2 separate regions of the Homo sapiens genome follow, and region 2 is linked to region 1. The links come from fine-mapping of genetic effects on gene expression. Tissue or cell type: subcutaneous fat. Region 1 holds a variant in brackets; the other region holds the start of a gene. All regions are shown on one strand. Distances are from middle to middle.

Region 1 (2,683 bases):
AGGCTCTTGTGCAACTTGAATTCCAAATCCATGCTTTGAAATGGCTAGCTAATTATCCCAGTTGACTCACTATGTCTACAAATGAATCTACTATCTTGCCTCTCTAAACCTGCCCTTCCTTCTATGCATGGACGAGCAGGACACCTGGGAGCCACCCTTGACTCCTCTATCAAGTCCATCTCACTGTTTCCTTGAATTTGCCCTTTACTATCGCTTACCTGAACTCTTTTTTTTGTTTGTTTGAAACAGAGTCTCATTCGCCACCCAGGCTGGAATACAGTGGCATCATCTCGGCTCACTGCAACCTCTGCCTCCCGGGTTCAAGTGATTCTCCTGCCTCAGCCTCCCGAGTAGCTGGGATTACAGGTGCCCACCACCATGCCCGGCTAATTTTTGTATTTTTAGTAGAGATGGGGTTTTGCCATGTTGCCCAGGCTGGTCTTGAACTCCTGACCTCAGGTGATCTGGTCATTTTGGCCTCCCAAAGTGCTGGGATTACAGGCGTGAGCCACTGCGCCTGGCTGCCTGAACACTTGAAGTAGCTCTTATCTAAGCTTCATTCTCCATATGATTCTTGAATGTGCCCCTTCCCACCCCCACTGCTTTCAGGATAATGACCAAATTCCGTGATCTGTTCCCTGTTTACCAAGCTATCCAAATTTATCTCTTGGCTTCTATTCCCAGCCCCAATTTCCATCCCACACAGTACGCTCCAGATACACTCGCAATTCCCAGGATTCATTGTGCCATCTTGCCTTCATATGTTTCTCTGTGCTAGAAATGCCTTCCACTTTCTCCAATCTGCCTCTTTGTTCAAAAGCCAATTCAAACGTCTCTGGGAAGTTTCCCACACCACGAGAAAAGCTGGTCTGTGCCTCCTCTGCGCCTTCACTGCCGCGCTTTCCTAGCCAGATTTTGCAATTGTATTTCTGCAATTACTCAAACGTGTTTCCTTCTGACCAGACAAAGCTCCCCAAGGCCGGACTTCATTCATCTTTACTCCTAATGCTTGAGGAAGGGCACATGAGTTGCAGATGCTTAGTGACTATTTTTTTTAGTGATAGACTCATGGGGGAAGGCAGCTTAGCTATAGCTAAGACAACCTTGGGGTGTGCAGGTGGGGGCGGTGAGGTGACTTCCAACCAGAAAAGAACTTGTAAATCTATAGGCATAGGTCATAAACTGAGCGTGTGTTTCACCCAAAGATGTGTTCATTTCTCTCCAGGGGGACATAGCTGGGGGTGAGAGAAGC[G/A]TGGAGGACACAAGATTTTGGCATTGAAAAATAGCAAAGAGTCTAAAAATGTTATTCCTGGAAGGGACATTCAAGATCATAAAACATTAGGACAAGACTGCATCTTTTAAATGTACATTTTAAAATATGCTTCAACACTCTGCTATTGAGGACACTGGCTCAGAAAGGCGGAACTGACTGCATTAAGGCCATAAAACAATTTAGTGGTTTCTTCACCCTTTTTTTTCCCTAAGAGACAGGGTCTCACTTTGTTGCCCAGGCTGGAGTGCAGTAGCATAATCACAGCTCACTGCAGCCTTGACATCCTGGGCTCAAGTTAATCTTCCCACCTCAGCCTCCCAAGTAGCTGGGACTACAGGTGTGCACCCCCATGCCTGGCTGGTTTTTAAAATTTTTATTATTTTTTTTTTAATGTAGAGACAGAGGTCTCCCTATGTTGCCCTGCCTGATCTCAAACACCTGGGCTCAGCCATCTTCCCCTGCCTCGGCCTCCCAATATGCTGGGATTTCAGGTGTCGGCCGCTGTGCCCTCCAGATTTCTTCACTCTTAACCCTATTGTCTTAATATTTCTCATGTTAATTGGGATTTAGATCAGAAAGCAGGGCGAAAATGGTTTTCAGTTCTCCCAAAATAAGGGGTTGGAAATTAAGAGTCTTTTGAGAAAAGTGAAATGTGGATGGTCATCTTGTTTGCTGTCACTGCTGGTTTAGACTTTTCAAACACTTCTGTTCACATGTCCCTAAAAGAAATTTGAAAATAGTGTATCTATTTGCACACTTTTAAGTTAACATCTAGTTTTTAATTATTTATTTATTTTTATTTTTTGAGATGGAGTCTCACTCTGTCAGCCAGGCCAGAGTGCAGTGGCGTGATCTTGGCTCACTGCAACCTCTGCCTCCCACGTTCAATCAATTCTCCTGCCTCAGCCTCCCTAGTAGCTGGGATTACAGGCATGTGCCACCATGCCCGGCTAATTTTTGACATCTAGTTTTTTGGGGTTTTTTTTGTGATTTTTGAGACAGAGTCTCGCTCTGTTGCCCAGGCTGGAGTGCAGTGGCGCGATCTCGGCTCACTGCAAGCTCCACCTCCCAGGTTCACGACATTCTCCTGTAGCTGGGACTACAGGCACCCGCCACCATGCCCAGATAATTTTGTTTTGTATTTTTTAGTAGAGACGGGGTTTCACTGTGTCAGCCAGGATGGTCTCAATCAATCTCCTGACCTCGTGATCCGCCTGCCTCGGCCTCCCAAAGTGCTGGGATTACAGGCATGAGCCACCGCGCCTGACATCTAGTTTTTTAAATCATAACTTTAAGTAGTTGCAAAACTTGTGGTTGGAGGGTTTCTGTAGGGGGTTGTACTTTTCTGAGCACCATTTGAACTCAAATTTGAAATTTCTGTTTTTAATTATATCCCAAGAGAGGTCAATC
Region 2 (2,683 bases), 70 kb before region 1:
TCCTCCCCTCTCTCTTCAGTTGTCTTCCGAGATGAACCCTATTACTAATTACTTGACCACCTTTCAAAGTTGCAGTTAAAATTCTTCACATTTTTCTCCCATTTCTATTTAATTAATTATTTTTTTTTTGAGACAGGGTCTCTCTGTTGCCCAGGCTGGAGTACAGTGGCGTGATCTAGTCTCACCGCAACCTCCGCCTCCCGGGTTCAAGCGATTCTCAGACTCCCGAATAGCTGGGGTTACAAGTGTGCGCCATCACACCCGGCTAATTTTTGTATTTTTAGTAGATACGGGGTTTCATCATGTTGGCCAGGCTGGTCTCGAACAACTGACCTCAAGTGATCTGCCCGCCCCGGCCTCCCGAAGTGCTGGGATTACAGGCGTGAGCCACTGCGCCCGCCCCCCATTTCTATTTTAATTAAATTTTATTTAGGATAGGCTTAGCTTAAATTTTTACGACTGAGGTCTGACTTAAGATGATAGCATCAACCATGGAGTTTTCTTTCGTGAACATTATTATTACTAAGCCCAATTTTCCCAGGTCAAATTTTGTAAAACAAAACGTGGTCAAAATTTGATTCTCTGATCGATTTTTTGTAAAAAAGAAAAAAATTACCGTGTAGTTTTAAATGTTGTCAATTAAATTTTGTAATAGTTACCTCTACTCTGTTCAGGTTAATACTGAGGTTTTCAACAAGACCAACATACGATTCTTTTTTTTTTTTTTTTTTTTTTTTTTGGTGGGGTTGAGGGGACATAACAGTTTTTTCACTCTTGTTAAATTAATTTTCTGTTGATTCCATCTATCCTTAATCTTCATTATGAGCAACATACCAGGTTTTCTTCTGAAGATCATATGTGGTAGTGAGGCAATAATGCAAAGACATAGGATGGCAGGGGGATTCCGGCTTCTTTCTTTCTTCCCCTCCTGTGGAAAGAGGGTCTATAACACTCCGTAGTAGATAGGACAATTCTAATTATGAAGGGTAATTAGCTAGGCTCTGCTACAACCGAGAGCCCTGAGAGATTCCTCGACGCTGGCTGCTTTTCTCTTCCTCTCCACCAGAGGCGACAGCCTCTTTCCAAACAGAAACTGGGTTGGAATAGGCCGGTCCGGGGGAACGGCCAGAAGAAAGATCAAAGGTTAAAAACCGCCTCAAAGAGCACAGGTCAATACCCAACTCCTAAGGAGGCCTTAAGCTTTCATCTGCCACGAAACATGAAGGTGACTCCTCCCAATATCAAGGCCGGGGGGCCACTCAGCCTTCCAGAGACCCGGCGGGTCCGAGGCGAGTAACAGGTAACACCTGCTGAGCCGCCGCCGACCGGAAGTGGAAGAGAGCCCGGGACGGGGGTGAGGACAGGCCGCGGCACGCCTGCGCAGTCAGCAGGAGTTGCAGCGCTCATGCGCAGCTGGGCGGTGACAGGGTGACGCTCGGAGCGTGGGCCGCGACTCTCACGGATCCGGTTCCGCCCTCTCGCTGCCGATCCTTCGGAGCGAGCGCCCGAGATCCCTTTCCCAGAGTGCTCTGCGCCGTGAAGAAGCGGCTCCCGGGGACTGGGGGCATTTTGTGTTGGCTGGAGCTGGAGTAACAAGATGGCGTCGTCCGCGGAGTGACAGGGGTCCCTCTGGGCCGGAGCCGGCGGCAGTGGTGGCAGCGGTATCGCCGCCCTAGCTCACCGCGCCCCTTTTCCAGCCCGCGACGTCGCCGCGCAAGCGAGGCAGCGGCGGCCGCCGAGAAACAAGTGGCCCAGCCTGGTAACCGCCGAGAAGCCCTTCACAAACTGCGGCCTGGCAAAAAGAAACCTGACTGAGCGGCGGTGATCAGGTTCCCCTCTGCTGATTCTGGGCCCCGAACCCCGGTAAAGGCCTCCGTGTTCCGTTTCCTGCCGCCCTCCTCCGTAGCCTTGCCTAGTGTAGGAGCCCCGAGGCCTCCGTCCTCTTCCCAGAGGTGTCGGGGCTTGGCCCCAGCCTCCATCTTCGTCTCTCAGGATGGCGAGTAGCAGCGGCTCCAAGGCTGAATTCATTGTCGGAGGGAAATATAAACTGGTACGGAAGATCGGGTCTGGCTCCTTCGGGGACATCTATTTGGCGATCAACATCACCAACGGCGAGGTAATCATCTGGGGTGGGGTTCACGATAACGCTGCGCTTTTACTCATTCCCCCCACCACCACCGTGCACCCCCAAAGTGCTCGGGCCTCTCCTCATCGCACGCACTCGCCAGGGAGTCCAGGGAGCTAGTTTTCCTGGCTTACGAACCTCGTCCGCTGTCTCCCTAAAAGGGTCAAGAACCCGATAGAAAGGTTGGGGGAACTAGTTTCCCACCTTGTTAAACACGTCCCATAAATGTCCCTTAGTCGAGCTTTTTTTTTTTTTAACCGTCTTTTAAGGTGGAAACGGCAAAATCCTCTTTCAGTGATTCCCATGTTTTTTTTTTTTTAATTCTTAATTCTACTGGGCCTCTTGTTCCAATTAGAACAGTTTCCGATCGCCTAGTTCCTTAAAAACCTCTCACTACGTTCAGAGGTTGCCTCTTTTTTCTGGATGAATCATTTTCCTGCACTTTAGAGGACGTACGGATTTCGTCACTACCCCCTGAAGAGGCCTTTGAGGCTGGTTGCCTCGTTTTATAATTACCGAGAGCTTTCTCTTTCCAGCTTTTCACTTCTTCTTGTAGTC

Direction of the effects. Alleles are on the strand shown, and positions count from the first base shown. SD is a standard deviation of normalised expression in the study named.
For the expression in subcutaneous fat of the gene that starts at base 1,519 in region 2, A is the low allele of the variant in region 1 and G is the other (small effect, 0.16 SD a copy in GTEx).

Evidence for each region. PIP is the estimated chance that this variant, and not a neighbour inherited with it, causes the effect.
Region 2: it holds the start of CSNK1A1, and the variant in region 1 is fine-mapped to the expression of CSNK1A1 in subcutaneous fat (GTEx, PIP 0.97).

What each region holds. Positions count from the first base shown.
Region 1 is chr5:149,480,305-149,482,987 of GRCh38, reverse strand. No RefSeq gene overlaps it. Among named protein-coding and RNA genes, the nearest start is that of MIR145, 51 kb to the right of the region's middle. The variant G/A (reference allele first, on the strand shown) is at 1,253.
Region 2 is chr5:149,550,275-149,552,957 of GRCh38, reverse strand. It overlaps CSNK1A1 (casein kinase 1 alpha 1), which reads left to right and starts at 1,519. Exons shown (of 10, transcript NM_001892.6): 1 at 1,519-2,116. The coding sequence starts at 1,994. It also overlaps a transcript of ARHGEF37 not described here. RefSeq lists enhancers at 942-1,011, 569-1,362, 1,062-1,731, 1,762-1,821, 1,952-2,011 and 1 more.